Linked DNA regions of Homo sapiens: region 2 is linked to region 1. Evidence: fine-mapped expression QTL. A gene starts in region 1. The other region holds a variant in brackets. All regions are shown on one strand. Distances are from middle to middle. Region 1 holds the start of LRRC1 (leucine rich repeat containing 1). Region 2 overlaps LRRC1 (leucine rich repeat containing 1).

The links.
Region 2: its variant is fine-mapped to the expression of LRRC1 in anterior cingulate cortex (GTEx, PIP 0.97).

The regions. Positions count from the first base shown.
Region 1 is chr6:53,786,332-53,798,336 of GRCh38, forward strand. LRRC1 (leucine rich repeat containing 1) reads left to right here and starts at 8,674. Exons shown (of 14, transcript NM_018214.5): 1 at 8,674-9,084. The coding sequence starts at 8,926. It overlaps LOC124901333 (a long non-coding RNA gene), which reads right to left and starts at 7,344. Exons shown (of 5, transcript XR_007059619.1): 1 at 7,210-7,344; 2 at 6,952-7,018. RefSeq lists silencers at 7,365-7,494, 8,540-8,779 and an enhancer at 8,746-9,458.
Region 2 is chr6:53,837,234-53,845,233 of GRCh38, forward strand. It overlaps LRRC1 (leucine rich repeat containing 1), which reads left to right. Exons shown (of 14, transcript NM_018214.5): 2 at 4,877-4,994. Among named protein-coding and RNA genes, the nearest start is that of LRRC1, 46 kb to the left of the region's middle. The variant G/A (reference allele first, on the strand shown) is at 3,701.

The DNA of each region.
Region 1 (12,005 bases):
GATTAGGTATCTTTATGCTTGATTTTGCTTAAAGCAGGACACATCTGTAGAACTGCCTTCCTACAAATTAATTTGACTTGTCTCAATGATGGATTTATAACAGTATCAGATACTGATATTTCCACCCAAACTCTCTAACTTTTACCTCCTTTAAGGTGCTATAATTAATGAAATGTATTTGTTTATAAGCTTCTCACATATTAATAAAAACTTTACAACAAATTGATGCTCTTTGAAAACATTTCTCCCTTGTATTTTGTGGGAAGAAAACAGCAAATAAAGTAGATTTGTCAGTTGACCCAGTAATAGAAAATAGTATGAATAAATTAGAATTGCAGAGATATCTGATGGTTTCTGAAATAAATGATTGAATGAAACCTAAATATTATACTTTTAAAAATACATGTTGATCTGATCTTCATTGTTTTATTAGTAACATAAATAAACTATCATGGTATGCTTAAACAGTTAAATGTTTTTGTCAGCCTGAAAGTTAATAGTTTTCTTTCTTTCTTTCAAGACAGCATTATTAATAACATATTATTTCAAGTTGACTAGCCCTAAAAGGTATCTTATTCTCCAGTCAAGTTTGCATGAACTTTATGGATAGTGCTAACTTGACTGGAGAAATAGGAGATCTTTCAGGCTTATGTTAGTTAACTGATCAACATACTTTGATCACTAATGGTCTTTGAACTGTTTGAATGACAGTGCTCAGTGGAGTGGTTTCACTCATAGGTATAATTTTTACTAATTACAAAGTAGACCTTGGCCTTCAGTGAAAACAATGTCTATATTGATTTAATTTATATTGTAGGAACTGTAACAATAAAATAAGAGTAACATAAGAAGAGACACGGCTATATGATTTTCTTAAACCTTTTGTGGATGAAGGTGAAAAATAAATGAGGCATCTATGTTTACTTAAATGATTAAAAAGTACATTTTGATCAGATGAGGCAATGTATGCTAATGTACTCTTTTTAAACGATAAAGCATTACACAAATGTAAAGCATTGCCACAACCTGAGCCACCTCTAAGCTTCACCTTCCTGTTTTATCAAAGAAGGAGACCATGAGGCTGAGGCAGAGGCCTGGAAAAAGATGGATTCAGTGGCAGATACCTGGTTTTGATTTGGCTTCTTTGATATAGTCTCTTTCCTACTGAAATACTTTACCGTCTCATATCAACTGATATGATAATTTACATATTGTTTACCTAAACAATGTACTCACATGATAGGCTTTCTTTTGGCTGGTAACTGAGCAAAGAGTATTGACAATGAATAATGCCTAATGTGTTGTGTTCTGCAGTATGGAAAACTTTTTCCACTACATTAACCCATAATCCTCTCAAAAGCCATTTGAGGGTGGCATTTTTCATGCCTTTGTAGAAATAAAGAATATTGGAGTTAAATATGATTAACCCAAGATCTCATCCCTAGTAGTGGCAGATCCAAAAATTCAATGCAAAATCATGAGTTCTTTATACCACCCCACACTACAGGTAGTTTTGGCTCATTTCCACCAAGGCAAAATGCTGTTCAATATTTGACTCATCATGAGAACCTTTATAAGGAGATTGAGAAAAACAGAAAAGCAGAAAACTCAATTTGCTCATTTGTAACTCCTATGAATGGAGGGGTAGATTAAAATCTTAGTAATAAGAAAATTTGGATTGTCCACATACTCTTACAATCTGTGAAGCTATATAAACAAATGATTACAATTTATAAAAAACAACTGAATGGTTACTACATGACCAACTTTCCCACAGATAACAATTACAGTGCTGAACAAAATGCAAAAATCAACTATCTGAAGGTACTGCAGAATGGCCAAAACCAAGCAGCAACTGAAGGAAAATCTATACTAGGAAGAAGAGTGAATTTTCTGCTTTTATGACTTTGACAAGCATACACTAGAGTCTATCACATAGATCAGCTAAAACTCATGTTTAGAGCAATCTGGCTCAATGTATCATACATCAGAGTTGGGGTGACAAAGGCACCTTGAAAGTGAGAAGCGGGAAACCTCAGACAGGATTGAGTGAGAACAGAAGCTCCAGATTCTGCATATAAATCGTCCAAATATTTGACTGACCGCTAAATTATGCATGTGTAGTTCAGCTTTTAAGCAACCTAATTAAGAATAAAATAACTGAACACAAATTTCAGCTGCCATGTACCACAGAGAAAATAAGAGTTTTTTGTTTTATTTCATCCAAGCTAACAGGCTGCTAAAACAAAACAAAACAAAAACACTCTTTGGAGGAATATAACAGAATCCAGAGATTCTATTATTTACAATATCCAGGACATAATCCAAAATTACTAGGTATATGAGGAGACAGAAAAATGTGACCTATACTTAAAAGAAAATGCAATCAAGGCAGAATGACTCTAAGATGACCCAGGTTTCAGAATTTGCCTACAAAGAGTTTAAAGCAGCTATTATAACCTTAATCAAATATGTAAAGGAACATAAACTCTTAATAAATGAACACATAGGAAATCTCAGCAGATAAATGAAACTATATAGAAAAAGAACCAAATGGAAATTTCAGAACTAAAAAATACACCATCTGAAATTGCATTTCTGATGGGCTTAGCAGCAGTTTGAAGATGACAGAAGAACCAGTAAACTTGAAGCTGGAACAGTATATATTATCCAATGTGGAAAACAGAGAGAAAAATATCAGGGAAAAAAGAGGCAGAACCTCAAAAATATGTGGGACAATATCAAGAGGTCTAACATTTTAAAAATTGAAGTATTAAAAGGGAAGAAGAGAATGGGCAAAAAATATGTGAAGAAACAATGGCTGAAAATGTTCTAAATTTGGTGAAAGTTATAAATTTACAGATTCAGGAAGCTCAGTAAACCATAATCAAGATAAATACAGACATATACTAATTAAACTACTAAAAACCAAGAACAGAGAGAAAATCTTAAAAGCAGCCAGAGAAAATGGTATATTACATACAAATTAGGTCCAATTTGAGTTATTGCTGACTTCTCATAAGAAATTAGAAAATTGATTATTTTTAGAGTGCTGAGAAGAAAAAAAAAACCAGCAAACTTGTCAACCCAGAACTGTATACCTACTGAAAATATTTATAAAGAATTAAGGTACAATAAAGACATCTGCAGATAAATCTTTAACAAACTTCCAGGTGAAGAGACATGACATGAGACAGGAATGAAGAGCACTGGAAATAAACGTGTGAGTAAATATAAAAGACAATTTTTTCCTCTTATTTCTTTAAAATACTAAAGAATTTTAAAAGAAAATATGAAAAATTTTGTGTGGGGTTTATAACATATAAATGTAATCTGCATAAAAATTGTAACATAAAGCACCAGATAGTTGACAAACGGACCTAGATAATTGCAGGAATCATATGCAAGGGTTTATATGAATTGGTATATTTACTCTAACTGGACTGTGAAAATTTAAGGATGCATATTATATTCCCTAGAGCAATCACGATAGCTAGAAAGCCAATAGATAAAGTGAGATTATAAAATATATTTATTTACTTAAAAGATGTCAAAAAAGGAGGAACAGAGGAACAAAAATCAGATGGTACACATGGAAAACAAATAATAAAATAATAGATTTAAGTCCAAATCATCTGATAATTATATGAAATGTAAATGGACTAAACATTTCAACCAAAAAGCAAGGGATGGGGACAGAATTTCAACTTAAATAGTAATATGAATCAAAGAGATTTTAGGGTAATTACTTTGGTTCTGATCATAAACATTGCTGACTTCTAAACTAATGTATCCATGTAATTCTGCAGGCTCTCAGGTTTCTCAAATGGTTTGAGTGTAGCCTTCCCTTATAGCACAGATACATAATCTTCAGGAAATATCCATAAACTCAACCTTGGAGAATCATGAGTTGGGATCTGAGTGCTTCTTCTCTGAGAGAGGGCTTTGGGATTCATATACAAATTGACCTATCTTTCTATTATCCAGATTTGTATATCATTAAGATTTAATTTGCTATTTGACCTGTTATCTAAATACCTCAAATAATCTCTTACAGGACAAAAAGTCATCCTCTCTAGATCAAGAAAAAAAAAGCTGTATCACACTACAATAGTACTATGATTTATAAGTTCCTTGATAGCTGCCTTTCTTTCAGTAAGACTGAAAGCCCTGTCTTGTTCTTTTTTGTCTCTCCAGCAAATTAACCCAGTGCCTGGCATGTAGTGAACAAGTAAATATTTATTGAGCAACTAATACAACATGATCCCTAACCCTAGATGTAATTTGCAACTTGTTGGATACATTCACCTGTATACTTTTTAATTTTTAGAATTAATTTTAGTGATATATATATCTTATGTAATAGTTTCTTATTTTAACTATACAGTCTGATGAAAAAAGTATATACCCACATAACTACACCACAATCAAGATATATAATATTTCCATCGCCCACTTCCCCTACAAATTCTCTGTTTTTCATCATCAATCTTTATCACCACAATCCCTCCTACAACCCAACTAACAGGTTCTAGACCACTGATTTAGGTTGTGTCACTTTATATTAGTTTGCATTTTCCAGAATTTTATATACATGGGATCATATAGTATGTACTCATTTGTGTTTGCCTTGTACACAACATAGTTTTTGCGATTTATGCACATTGCTACATGTATTAGTAGCTTGCTCCTTTTAGTTGAATGCTAGTCCATTGTTTCACTATACTACACTGTATCCGTCTGTTGATGAATATTTGGATTGTTTCCAGTTTGGGGCTATTATTAACAAAACTGCTATGCACATTTGTAAACAATCCTTGCTTGGACATATGTTTTCACTTTTTCTTGTGCAGATACCTAGGAGTAGAATGGGTAGATCATTAAGGTAGGCATATGATTACAATAAACTGCCAAATTGTTTTACAAAGTGGTTTTACCATTTTACACTTCCACCAGCAGTGTATGAATTCCAGTTGTTCCATTTTTTTATTTGTTTGAGACAGTGTCCTATGCTGTTGTCCAGGCTGAGTGCAGTGCCCAGCTCACTGCGGCCTCAAACTAACTAGGAGGCTCAAGTGATCCTTCCACCTTAGCCTTCTGAGTAGCTGGGACTACAGGCATATGCCACTATGCCAGGCTAATTTTTTATTTTTTGTAGAGGTGGGTGTCTCCCTATGTTGCCCAGGCTGGTCTTGAACTCCTGGCCTCAAGCGATCCCTCCACCCCATTCCGCCTGGGCCTCCCTAAGTGTTGGAATCAGGTGTCAGCCACTCTGCCGGGCCAAGTTGCTCTATATCTTCAGTAACATTTGGGATTGTCTTTTTTTTTTTTTCTTTAATTTTAAGTCATTCTAGTGGTTAGGCGGTGGTATGTCACATTAAAATTCACATGCCCAAACCTCTGAATCCCCATTTACAAGAATCCCTATCTTACACGCTAACACTTTGGATTTTCACTTAAAAAAATTAATGATATCATGCTCAAAAAATTAATGATAAAGCAACAACAGACCACTAAGTATTTATCATTCTCCTAACTTCAGAGAGTAAGCTTCATGAGGCTAAGACCTATCTTGTTTTTCTTACATTTCTAGTATCTAGCACAATGCCTGGTGCATAGTATGTACCTTTATTAGTTATTTGTTGCTGTGTAATAAATTACTCCAAATCTTAGCAGCTTAAAGCAACAAACATTTACTGTCTCACATAATTTCTGAGGGGCAAGAGTGGGGAGCAGCTTAGCTGAGTGGTCCTGAGTCTGAGGCTATCATGAGGTTTTAGTCAAGCTATCAGCTGGTGCTGCAGTCACTTGAAGGCTTGACAAGGGCTGGAGAACTGGCTTCCAAGATGGCTCACTCACATGACTACTGCCAAGAATCGTCAGTCCCTTGCTAGTTGTTGTCAGCAGTCTGCAATTCTTTGGCATGTGGAGCTCTAGATTTGCTCAACATGGCAGCTGGCTTCCCCAAAGTGAGTGATTCGAGAAAGAAAAAGTTGGTTACATAGACCAACCAGGAGATGGTGGATGTTGTCCCTAACTTCCTGGAGGCTGGCTAATAAAGTGCATAATTAATATTTATTGATTAAAGTAATGTGTGTCTGATACTGTACTAAGCATTTTACATATGTCATTTCATTTAATCCAGATAACAATCCCATGAATCATCCTCATTTGAGATATGATAAAACTGAGGCTTATACAAGTTAAGTAAACTGTCAATTTCTACGAAGCTAGTGGCATAACAAGAGTTCAAACACAGATCTCTTTAGCTCAAAGGCTGTGAAAACATGGTTCACAGTACAAATGAATAAAAGAATTACATTATTCTAAGAATAAAGTGATTTAGGTGGTCTTTTTAAACTTTGTTTAAATTGAGTCAAACTCATTTGTATGTGGCGGAAGAAACTAGATGTTTTATCAGGCGGGAAACCCTAAAATTCTTCAGGTGAGTAAAAAGTTAATTGCTTCCCTATTCTGTAGTTGACAAGGTGTTGTTTCATTTTTTCTCTCTTACTACGCTGTTTCAAATTCTTGGCAGATTATTGGAAACAAGGAAAGTCAAGAATTCTCCCAGTGACTACCCATAGAATTAAATCAACAAAAACTGTTGATCATTGACTGTGCATATGGCACTGTGGCAGCTTCCCAGATCTACAAAGCAAGTGAGACAGTATCTGTTGTTTAAGAGGTCATAATCTCTTTCGGATTAAGGTGATACAAAAATAATAACACAGAGAAGCTGAAGCATCATGGAGAGGCACACAAGGAATGCTTATTGAGGTCTGAATTTTTAAAAGACTGGACACGTCTTTAAAATACATTTGGTGTTCGTTAAAATAATCTAGTGTGATAACCTCTGGAAATCACATTATTTTAAATGGAGGGAACTAGCCTTCTTTAATTTTTTTTTTAAAAAGCAGTTGGAAAACTTGAAGACAGGGACTTACTTACCTTTCCACATGTCTCTGTCAGGAACCAGTTTTCTAGGAAGGGTGGCAGAAATGAGCTTCATATGTTTCTGGAATGCAAGAATGTAGAAAGGGGGGTGGAGGTTCAAAGTCCAGGTAGCCCTCTGTGAGAACGCAGGAATCAAATCAGGACAAACAAAAGAAGGGTGAAGTGGGTAGGGCAACGGAGTTTCGGGATTGACTGGAATGAGAGTTAAGGTGATAATGCTGGGGTGGAAATGAAAGTCAGACCCCTCCTTACGGACTGGGAAGAAAGGAGCCCTCCTAGTAAAGTTGAAAAGACCAAGTGTCCTCTTCTCCATTTCACCGGGGAAACGCTCCTGTGCCTAGTCGTAAGGTACAGGAGAGTCTATGGAGCCCATGGAGAGTCTAATGCAAAAACTAGTTTCCGACCAAACTTTGCCTTGGCCACTGAGCATGCTCAGCTTTGTCTTCTATAGAAAAGTGAACTCCGTGGCTCCAGATTTTAGCTATAGCAGCTGGAGGGCGGGAGTGAGTGTGGGAGAGCCAGCGTGGCAGCGGCCGCAGGTGGAAACCTGGAGTTTGAGTATGCTTGAAAGGGAAAGTGTGGAACGAAGGGGCGGCCGGGTGGGGAATCAGAGAAGCCCCCAAGGAAATGATTCATCATTGTGATTGACCTTGACTTTAGCAACCCTTCATTAAAGGAGAAAATTTGGTTATTCGGAGATGGGGACTGTGTTGCAAACAGTTACAGGCAAAGAGGGGCAGTTCAGGATTCCGGCCGTGGTCCGCAGGAATGAGTCGGGGCGAGGGAATGGTTGTTATAACCCAATAGTGAGCCTCCCCGGTCATCCGGGCTGGACGGGACTGGGGTTGTAGCAGAAAAGCAGGAGCTGTATGGAGGATGCTCACCTGGCAGCCTCGATCTGCCCCTCTTCCCTCGCTCCTCCCTCCGCACCAGCCACAGCTAGTTGTCAGGGGCCAACATCTGGGCCGGGCTGGAACTGGCTCAGAAACTCGCGTTTGCCTGCTTATTTCTGCAGCTGGGCTCCTTGCCAGGTGCAACCACATCTATGAGAATCTCGCAGACTCTCAGACTCCTATGCCTTTGCTGGTACAGGGAGGAGGATTTACTATCACTCACTGCATAAACCATGATCACCAGAGATGTGCTCCCAAGTTACAAAGCCTGCAGGCGGTGCCCGAGGACCAGAGGGCCGGGCGCGGCCAGCTCACACTTCTGGGGCAGCCGTGAGCAGCGGGCACACGGGCAGCCACGAAAGCAGCAGCGAGGGTGGTGCAAACACCTCAAAACTACACCGAATCCAGTAGCGCCTGGCGCCCCCGGCGCGCAAGGTACGCTTTGGGGCGGTCCTGTGTGACCCCGGAAGAGAAAGTTGTTTTGGGGAAGGGGAGCAAGGAGAGGAGTGCGAGTTAAATAAAACTAAATATCAAAGTTGTTCTGCTCTGCTCAGGCCGCCTCTACTCCGCCTCATCTTTGTCCCAAGTCCTTTCACAGTCTGCCTTCCTCAAACGGCCCGATGCGCCCCCGTCTTTGCCGGAGTAAGCAGACCGCCAGCAGCCGGCCCGCAGGTCAGTCGACCCTCTCTGGATGCAGGTCGCCGGGAAAACCCGGAGCGGAGCATCCCTCGGGCCGGGAAACGCCCTCGGCGCGCACCCACTGGCGCGCATGCTCAGTCCGCGCGGCGGCTGCGAGTAGGAAGCTCCGCGCGGCGGCGGGGGCGGCGACGGCGACTGGCGGGTGGGAGTGGAGGCACCGGCTGGCGGGCGGGGGTACAGGGACGGGGCAGGGGCTCCCGCTCCAGGTTCCTTGAAGCACTTCCGACCGCGAAGCCCGGCGCGAGAAGCGAGCTAACCCAAGAGCCAACAACGAGCGCGGAGAGGGCAGCGGACTGAGCGGAGCCGCCGGCCAGAGCGGGCTCGGAGCCCGGGTCTCCGCCGCTCGGGACCCGGCTAGGCGGCGGCGGGGGCGGCGATGTTCCACTGCATCCCCCTGTGGCGGTGCAACCGTCATGTGGAGAGCATCGACAAGCGCCACTGCTCGCTGGTCTACGTCCCCGAGGAGATCTACCGCTATGCCCGGAGCCTGGAGGAGCTGCTGCTGGACGCCAACCAGCTCCGCGAGCTGCCCGAGGTAAGGGTCCGGCCTCACCTGAGCGCTCTGCCCGCTCGTCTGCTGTCCCTTCCGCTCCCATCCTCTCTCGTCCCCTCTTCCATCTCCGGGTCCGGCGTGAAGGAACCTTCCCTCTTTTATGCATTCACCTGCTTCTTTCTCCCCCTGTCTCTTTACTTCCATCCTTTCCCAGTAAAAGTTCCTTTTCATTTTATTCAAAGTGACCGGATATTTTGCGCGTAGTCACTGGGGCTCGTGCTATTGGAGAAGCGTTCTGGACTGTTAAGTAACTTAGATCCATGCTAGGTACTGACACCTGGCACTTGTGCCCGGTCAGGTGAGAAGCCGGGTGATTCGGGCTGTTTCCATCTGGAAGCTACAGAGCACTGCATCCTCCCCCCCTCCACTCCCCGGGGTCGTTCCCCCACCAAGGGCCGGGCGCGCCTCTCCTTTAGTCAAGGCATGTCCCGGAGGACCTTGTGACCTGGGCAGCGCTCAAGCGGGCCGCACTATCTCGGCATCTTGGGAGGAATGAGGAATGTGCTCCGTGCTTTATCGCGGGTGGGCTTGGCCGGCTGGCCTGCGGTGGCTGCGGGGGTGGACGCGAGATGGGCGCAGGGGAGAGCTGGGCCTGGAGCGCTAGGGGCAGGTGCCCAGATGCCGGCCGCCCGGGCCTTGCCTACGTGGACCTGTTGCGTGGTGGGAGCTGCGGTGAACGTCAGCGGAGGCTCTGCCCGCGGGCCAGCCTTGCAGCCGCCTTTCCCGGAGCGGGCACAGTCGTCCTGCTGACTTTCTCTCCTTGCAGTGATGCGTTATCTCTTCAGAGTTGTTTATGTAAATTGATCACTCCATTGCCGCCGAACTTGTCAAGCGACATGTGCTGATGGTGCTTTGACCGAGAGTAGGGGTACAGCGAACTTCTTTCAAGCTTGCCTCGGGAACTTAGCTAGAGTAACCCCTCGGGGAAGGTGTCTCAAACCCAGGTGTGTGCAGGAAGTCGGTGTGCAATAATCCAAAGGTGTGCAGGAAGTAGGGAGACTGCTGGCAGTCGGGGATTGGACCTGTTTTAGGCCTGAGCTTTGGAACGCAAACTTCTTGTTGCCCTTTAGTTAACACAAGCCAAATCATTGTCACAGAAACACTAGTCAAGTGTTCTGACTTGTTAGAATGACCTGATACGTTCTCCAGCGCTGATGGAGCATTTAAACAATAAGAACTGTGTGTTTTTCTCAATATTTTAAGTGGTGGTGTTCTTCTTGGATTAACTTTCCTGGGTTCATGTGGAATTGATTGGATGTTTGCTCTGTGTAATCATGGAGATTATCCTCACTAGGACCTTTGCAAAGCCCCCCAGGCTTTATTTAGCTTAGAAGCAGCAAAGCCATCAAGTTCCCTCAGGCGTTTATTATTTCGCAGGCATTTTCAAACACATGATTTTTTTCTGGCCTTTTACGTCCTTGAAGATTTCTTACCAGTCGTCAGCTCCCTCACTGCTTTAAGTTGTGTAATTTTAGGCAGTGATATCACCAGGAATATAGAATATGTAATTTAATAGTTTTCAGGGGCTTCAGGATGACATTATTGAAGATGGAGTGAAAAGTTATTCACTAGAAATGATTCATTGCTCTTTGTGGTATTTGTTTTTTTGTTTTCTTTTGTAGAACTGGAAGATTTCCTTTGACTGGATTGGCTTTTCACTCCCTTCTGCAGGGTTTGTGGGTTTTCCTGTAATGTTGGGGAATTCAGCTTGGCATGGGAAATTACATAATTTCCCATGCCAAGCCGAAATGTCAGGTCTTTCTGTGATCCTAAATGGAAACTTGTCAGAATCTCAAAATATAGTCTGATGGCACTCTGTAAATATGGTAAATAAACAAGCTTTTCAAAGGTTACAGGTGATCTTGCTAATGGATTATTATTGCTCTAACAGCTGTTAAATTAGTATTAAAGTTTTTAGGTTGTGTAAAATCTACTTCTCCCTGACTTATTGTGTGTCTTGGTGCCTGGGTGTGTACATGCCAGACATGAGAACCACCTTGCAAACATAGATATCTGTTCCATCCCTTCCATTCTTTCCTTGGGCTATCTGTTGTCTCACCTCTGAGATCTGTATAACTTATTACCACTGGTCTCTGCTGCTCCTGCTCCAAACCCCTGTCTCCTTACCTGCCACACACAAGCGCATCTGTTTTGTTCACAAGCCTCAAAGGTCCTTATTTTGGTGGCCATACCAGCTGTATGTTCTCCTCTCTATAATTTGTTTGGAAGCACAGCTTAAGGGGAAGCCGGTACCCCTTACCAGGGCAGCAAAGATGCACTCTCCAGGTTTCAGTGTAATAACAGCCACCTTCTTTCCACTGAAAGGCCTGCAACTTCTGGTTTGCGCCAATATCTTCCTTTTACAAATTCAGATTCAGAATTGAGGTGACTTTCTCAGGGCTGTCCAGTGAGTTAGATGCAGTTGCTGGTGGGTCTTGTTCATTCAGATGTCAGCCAAATACAATTGCTTTGGACACCTAGCAGGAATCTTCTATCCTGCTTCTCACACCCATCAAATCTTTATTTAGTCTCTCCTGTTTTACTCATGTCATTATAACTTAGCCTTAGCCAAGCATTTATTGAGACTCCATTATTTACAAGTTATTGGGAATATAGAGATTAAAGGAGGCATGATTCACATCTTTGGGAGGAAGCAGATGATTTTAATCCAGATGTAGTTAGTGTGGGATGGAAAGGACACCACGGTTAAACTACTCCTAAGCTATGGACTTGATGGTTACTTCCCTAATCTTTTAACCTTTTGCATCAGATCCCTCATCTTCAGTTTGGTTGCAGTTGGGTGATAGCCTCACCATCCTTTTTGCATCCACCTACTTCTCCCCCATACCCGCAGTTTGATCCTTTTTGGCTCTGTGCTAACAAAGGCAGTCTCACTGTAACCT
Region 2 (8,000 bases), 49 kb after region 1:
TATACCTAGTAGTATAACTTCTGGGTAACAAAGTCACAGTCACTTTTTGCAAGTCTCACAGAAAAGAACAATACCAGATGACACAAATGATGTGTACTGTGCATCTTACCTTGAGATTAGAACTGTTGGTTTACCATGCAACCACATACAGGTGGTTGACCAAAAAGGCAGTCTAGGTTGATGGGGACCGGAGTAGGGATGGTATGAGAGTTATGTAGGATGAAAAGGGGTCAAGATGTATGTGATAGGTTAGAATGTCTCTGGGAAGGAAATCTGTGAGTAAATTTGGTGTTATTATAGTTAGGAGTCCCATAGTTTTTCAGGAATTAATAGCATTTTTTACATTAGTTGTTCTCCATTTGAATTTGTAACAATGGTTTATGTTTTCTCTATATTGCAGAGGAGAAGTTTGGGCAACTGGGGGACAATTGACTGATCCTTGGCCATATAATAATAAAAGGGGACCCAGCTCTTCTAGGACTGAGATTTTCTTTGTCCCTTTCTAAAAAGCAGAAGGGAGGTACTAACACTTTACCAAAAAAGAAGGAAAAGAATCTTGTCAGAAATGGAGAATGGGAGAACATTTAGCCAAATTAAAGGCTGTATCTACTAAAAGCAATGGTGGCTCTAAGAAGATGGGTGTAGCATAACAACCCGAGGCAATTTGGGTTCCTTTGCATATAATTGTACAGAATGTGCTCTAAGTGGGTTAGTGAGCTATAATCAAACATGGTAGAGTTGAAGAATGGTGTCTGTGTGTTCTGTCACATGGTTGCACTGCACTGAGGCTTCCTGCCAAGACAGCTACAGGAATTGTTTTTCATGGGCTCTGGCTGATCTCAAAGGCAAGGCAGAAGGGTTTATAGCTTAGTGAGTTATTTTTCCTGACTCTCTAAGGAAGCTGAATATTTGAGAATTTAATACAGTTTCCTTGGCATTGTGTTGATCTTTGGATACCATATTAAGATCACATCAGGATAATGAGGGAAGGATTAAGGAATTACTGGTTTCATTTGGGATCATGTCAGATGGGGTTGTTTTTACATCTGGCATGTACTTCCCAAGTTGAATAAAGTAGTATTTGTGACAGGCTCTAGTGGAGGATGCTGGTAACATGCAGAACCAAACCTTAAATTTGCATGCTGTTATGACTTCTATTGGATGTGAGGATTTGTAGGTTATCGTTTCCACAGATGTAAAGTGAACTTATTATTCACTGTACATCTAAGTACCTTATTGACTTGATTTCTTGTCTTATTTCTGAATGGTCCCAGAATGTATGGAGATGGTGATGGGTTTTGTAGTTTTGCTATTATGCCTTTCCTAGAAAACAAAGTGAGCTTTTCATGCTTGAGTAAACACATTGATGTATTATGAAACTGTCAAGACTCTGTACAATTGGCATAAGCTCAATTATTCAAATACGTGACTCTATTGAATGGCTTTTGTGCTGGCTGATGCTTTAGTTCAGCCAGTATAAAGACATTTCAATATCTTTCCTTAAGAAATTAAATCTCAACTGCATGAGTAAAGAAATGCAAAGGATTAGTCCTGTAGTTGAGCACTTTCCTCATCATCTTGTATAGCTAATTGGTAGCATTCATTTGCTGAGATTTATAGTTCATTTTATTTTTTAAAAAAATATGGTTTTTAAATTAAAAAGTCATTCATGCATTATCTTTGTCACCCAACATAACTGCTTTTTTCTTCTTTGTTCTCTTCCTGTCAGTCCACATGCACACATGCTTTTTTAATGTAGTGTATCAGCAATTTTGTTTTCTTTTTAAGTTATATTTGCATGGTAAATCTTTTTCAAGTTCTGTGGTCTTTATAATATTTATTTTTATTGTTGCATAATATTGAATTATTTAATAATATGCAATCATTTTTCTTATTTGAAATGTATGTTTTCTAGTTTTTTATTTTTACACATAATAGTGCAAAGATGTATTTGTGCATTATTTTCAGTTATGAGGACAGGTGTCCAGAAGTATTTCAGTGGACTTGAAAAGATTTTTTCTTTTACGTATTGCTCAATTGCTTTCCAAGAGGCAATTGTATGATTATATAAATATACAATCTTTTTTACCAACAAAAAAAAGAAAGATAAAGTCTATTAAATGTTAGCATCCTACAAAATTAACATTTGGAGCATCCTGTAATCTTAGTAGAGACTTCTTCATTTGTAAATTCAATTTCTATTTTTAGCAGAGTAATGTATGCAAATAGTTTAAAAATCTAATAAGCTGTTTAGTGTGACAGTGAAAAACAGCAGCCTCTTGCCTCCTTCCCCACTCCGGTTTCTGGCTTTTGACTATTTCTGCGAATATTTGCCTCCATATTGCTAAATGACTTTTGCGGCTTGATTTTTTTTCCTCTTTGAGTTATTTATGGATTTCTTTTTGTGGAAGATGAGGCTTTAGTTCTTACAGTTTCTTTCCCATTCTCTCAATATTGACATAACATAAATTTTGGTTTTACCAATATAGATATTATAATGTTATGACTGTAAGTACTGTTCATAATCAAATTTTATATTATGATTATATATTCTTTCACTTTATATTTTCCCTGGAATTAATAACCCTCTTTCCTTTTGCTTGCTTTGTTTTCTTTATGCCTATTTCTAATTTATCACCAAACATTCTGAAAGAGTTGCAAATTTCCTTTGATACTTCCAAACATGTCAGATAATTCCTCAGGTGTGTTTTTATTTATTTTTTCAAAACCTCCCTCTGGGAGCTGTCATATTGCTGCAGTGTAGATGGGTTGCTCTTGGGGCCTGATATTCAAGCAACATTTTGGAATTCCCTTCATGATTTTATTCTGGGAATTTCCTTTGCCTTTCTCTGTTTTGTTGATTCTCTGTTTCCTGGATCTCAGGTTGTTTTTCTTTTAAGTTTACTTACATATTTTGATGGAGTCCTGAGAAAGGTGCAAGGAAACTGAACTTTTTGATACCATGCGTGACTGAAATGTTTTTATTCTGTAATCATACTTAATTGATAGTTTGGCTGGGTATATAATTTTAGGTTGGGAATAATGATTTTTTTGGAATTTTGAAGGCATTGCTTTATTGCCCTCTTACTTTCAAGGTTGCTTTTGAGTCCAGTGCCATTCTGATACCCAATTCTTTGTTAAGACCTTTTTCCTTTATTTCCTGTGCCTGGAAACTTTTAGAATCTAATTTCTGGAGTTCTAACATCTTATGGTATGCCTTGGTATGTACTTTTTTTTTCATTCATTTTATTGGTCGCATGGTGGGCCCTCTCAAACCAGAAAAAGCATGTCCTGCAGTTTCCTGTATTTCTCTCTTTCAACTACGAATTACTTTGTAGTACCTTGTGAACCGGTCCATTAGTTTTCCTCTCTTTTTTTCTCCCACTTTCCCATCTTTTTGTCTTTTTATTCCACCTTCTGAGGACTCTATTAACTTTATTTTTCACCTCTTTTATGGGATTCTTTTATCAATGCTACAATATTTTTCACTTTCTGAAAGCTTATTTCTAATTCTTCTAATTATGCTTTTTATGGTGTTATGTTGCTTCATCTGTGATTTCTCTGAGGATATTAATTATTTTTTGGTTGAGGAATTATTTTTTCTGCTCCCTGCATCATGTTTGTTTCCTCTGGGGTGGGGGGGTATGTGTTTGTGTGTGTGTGTGTGTGTGTGTGTGTGTGTGTGTGTGTGTGTGCGTGC[G/A]CGCACATTCTCTTTCTTGCATGTGGCAGTGGAGATCAGATGAGGTGGGCCTGTTTGGAAGCTCCGTGTGTTGGTGAGGCTTATAACCTGAAGCTTCTTTATAGGAAGATTAGTGTCTGCAAGTCTGTGCTCATGCCCAGGAGCCGGGATGCAGGGAGAAGAGAGGGTGGGATCTTACTGACCAGGCTTTGTCTCAGTCCCCTGTTTTTAGCATGGTTATGTTACCCCCTGCCCTCAGCTGTGCTTAGCTGTGGTAGGACTTACCTCTTCTGGAGAGGAAATTTCCAGGCTCCTGCCTGGCTCTGCAGGGTAGAGAAGAGAATATGGCAGTTTAACTGTTCATTATATAAATTTTCAATCAGTTCTCCTTTCCTCAGAGGTACCTGGACCTAGTTTCTTATTGGCTACTCGCCCCACAGGCTTAAATTTCAGCTTTGTTTCAATTTGTTTGTTAGTTACCATTCATCCCTCTGTTTTCTAGCTTAAAGGATTTTGTTGCATATCTAGTTCGCTTTTTGTACTCTTTCATTTTCTGTCTTCATGGGCTTATTTCACATTATATTTATGTTCATGTGTATATAAATTCCTTTAGTGTCATTTTAATACAGTTTTTAAAAAGTATGGGGAAAGAGCATGTACTCAGTCTGCCATGGTTGATGGAAGTATCCAGTGCAGACTTTTTAGACTGGTCAAAAATATATTTTTTGCTTGCACACATTTGTGGGATATTTATTATACTTTCTGATATACAATAATTTCTTTAAAAAATGTCTTTTTAAAATATTTTAAAATTTAAATAATATTTTTAAAAGACATTTTTACATGTCTTTAGCATTGCAGATTTAATGTCAATTTTCATAAGTCGATATTTCTGTCTACTGGATAGCTTAAAGGAGTGACTGTTCTTTAAGTTGCTCATTAATTTTTAAAAACCTTTTATTTTGAAATAATTGTAGATTGATAGGAAGTTCAAAAATAGTACTGAGAGGTTCCTTATACCCAGTTTTTCCCAATGGTAACATCTTCACAACTACAGTACTGCCATCAAAGTTAGGAAATTGATGTTGCTACAACCTTCATTAGTTTTTAAAAGACATTGTTTTACATTTCATAGTAGCCCAAAAGTTTATGATACAAACATATGTGAAATCTATGTTAAACTCTTTTGTCTTTCAGCAATTTTTCCAGCTAGTCAAATTACGAAAGCTTGGACTTAGTGATAATGAAATTCAGCGGCTCCCTCCAGAAATAGCAAACTTCATGCAGCTGGTGGAACTAGATGTGTCTCGAAATGGTAAGAAAGATTCCACTTGGGTTGCCTATTTGTCTCTTCAGATGCTGGGGGTGTTTTTAGTAAATATAGCTACGAGTGAGAACATGCGGTGTTTGGTTTTTTGTCCTTGTGATAGTTCGCTGAGAATGATGGTTTCCAGCTTCATCCATGTCCCAAATATAGCTAGATAAATATTACTGGAGGTGCTTTCCCTGATAGTTATGGGAAAACTATATGATTCTTGGGGTGAAATTAATGCCATTTTTGAATAGGTCAGTTAACTTATAGGCATTTTCCAAAAAAAATTTCATAACACAAGTTTTAGGAGACAGCTTTCTCCAAATAAGTTCAATCTGATTCCTAGAGTTAGAGAGTGGGCTGGGCAATCATTTAACCTTGTCCACTTATTTTGCTGAACATGATATTGAGGACTGGTGGCATGGTTTTTGTCCAGTGCTTGGGTGCTGCTGTGGCAAGGGAAACCTGCCCTGGGGAAGGGTTGGTTTCTCTTGGCTGTGTCTCAGTTGCTTGGTATGCTCTCCCTGTAGTGAACAGACCTGCTTGCGTTCAGGCATCTTCTGTCTTAATGTGTTTCTAATTAGGCTGCTGGTGGCTTTGCCCACTTCAATTTGTGTGGTATATTTGTGAGTTTATTTTGATTTTCAGATCCCACTATTGATTCATTTTTACTGAACATTTGAATAGGGCATCCTAATAGATACCCCAATGGGATACTCAAATGCCTTTCATTTTTAAATGGGTACCTTGGTTTAACCCTCAGTTTTATACCCCTTAGAGTGCTTCCCAAATGGGCTGGTACTGCTCCTTGTTGTAGCATATTTGATTTATTAAATTAACGTAGCAACTCCCAGTGGTCCTATCTAGTGATGGAATTCAGTTCTTGTAAGGACCCTGGTACAATTTCCTTAGGATAGTCTTGAACAAGGTCTGAATTATTTATTAAAAAGGTAATTCCTTTATTTCTCTCCTATTACATACCTGATTTATTTTGTGTTTTGCTTCTGTTTTCCTACAAAAATCTATAGGTTTCTTCTGAATTGATTATCTTTAGGTCTGTATATTTCAGTCTGATATTTTTGGCAAAAACCCCAGGTCCCAGACATATAATTCTTCTGTGGGTCATTGTTATAATACAGCAATGGTAATCAGTACTTGGTTGGAAATATGGTGAAGAAAAAAATGATTCCTCCTTTCTAACAACTTCTAATAGGTTTTAAATTGTTTTTATCTGTTACATTCCATAAATTAGAAACTGTCTTCTGGCTTAGCCATGTGATCGTGACATTCTTCTATTTTGCATGAAAATTATTTCTTACTTTGAAGGTACTAGAAAAAGTAAAACAAAACTTTTTTGGGGGAGGGTGTCTTGTTTTAGAGTGGCTTATTTGGTCGCAGGGAACCCAGATCTACTTAGATAAAGTGGATTTGATTGTAAGGAAGGCGGGGTGGAATTAACATGCACCAAAAGCAGTGGCACCAAGCTTGCATTTGACACTATCTTGGGGGTTTCATGGCCTCTTTTTTCCAGTGTGTCCACTTCTGTTTGTGGGTTCTCTGTTCTTCCCTCCTCACTGAACTGCTCTGTTGGAACTGGCTTGTGGTGGCCTCTTTTTGTGACTTCTCTTTACGTACAGTTTGACTTTTGCCCCTGCTGCAGCATTTGTTTGCCAGTGAAGGATTTCTCAGTGAAGAGTGGTTGACCCAACTTATCTTTTTATGCCAATCATAAGACATAGGGTACAGGTCAGGTTACCAGCCACCCTAAAGGTTGGCTGCCCTGGGAGTTGGATGGCAACCAGTACAAAGCATGGCCCTGCCCCTCAGCACAGAAGTTGTTGATGAGCAGCTTCGCTTACACTGGAGTATGGGGTGGGGTGGGCATCTGGGGTCTGGCCAGGCCAGAATTGCCTCAGAAACTAGCCTGTATAATACTTTCCCAAGGTATATGTGATTGAAATGATTCTCTTGTCCTAGCAGTTACCTAAGTTATAAAGAATGACTAGCTATTAACTCTGCAAGGAAGCAGTGACTTTGTAAAATGGTCACGAAAGTCACAAAATCTGAAGAAATACATAGCAATTTTGAAATGGGGATTAGAAATAAACAGAAATACTTAAGAAAGACGAAAAGTTTTGGCTCTGACTATTTGGGCGGAAGGAAACCATACAGCTCAAAAGTTCCCAGTCCCGTAATTAACTCTAATGGGATGCTCCGTGGGAAGTCAGCACTAGTCAGCTGCCAGTTTTACCAGTTCCCACATCAGCTCTTTTCAAACATTTGTAGCTAGAAAGAAGGGCTCCATGCATCTTCCCGTGTGTCCCCTTACCTTCCAGCACGTTGATAAAAGAAACTAGGCTTTCACTGAAGACAGTATCAGGACACAAAAATGTTTCTGCTCCTTGGAACACCTACCCTGCTTTTTGTTGTTGTTGTTGTTGTTGTATTTTTCCCCGCTCACTTTCAACCTTTCCTTCTGCAAGTGTTGGAGTTTTGTGAGGGATCCTGCAGAACGTTCACCTTCTTATCCAGCTCTCTTAGAAATGCCGAGAGGGAGTTAACCATTCCCTTCCCTTCTTGACAGGGCCTGGCTCTGGCTCAGTAGCATTATGTGTGTGGTGGATGTGGGGGTAGAGGGGAAGACAGCATGGAAGGTTCAGGGCTTTCCTGGAGGTTATTAAAAGAAAGAGTGAACCTGGGCTGGGTGCGGTGGCTCACGCCTGTAATCCCGGCACTTTGGGAGGCCAAGGCGGGGGGATCACTAGGTCAGGAGTTCGAGACCAGCCTGACCAACATGGTGAAACCTCCAACTCTACTAAAAATACAAAAATTAACCAGGCTTGGTGGCACGTGCCTGTAATCCCAGCTCCTCAGGAGGCTGGGGCAGGAGAATCGCTTGAACCCGGGAGGTGGAGGTTGCAGTGAGGCAAGATCACGCCATTGCACTCCAGCCTAGGCGACAGAGCAAGACTCCGTCTCAAACAAACAAAAGAAAGAACGAATCTGTGC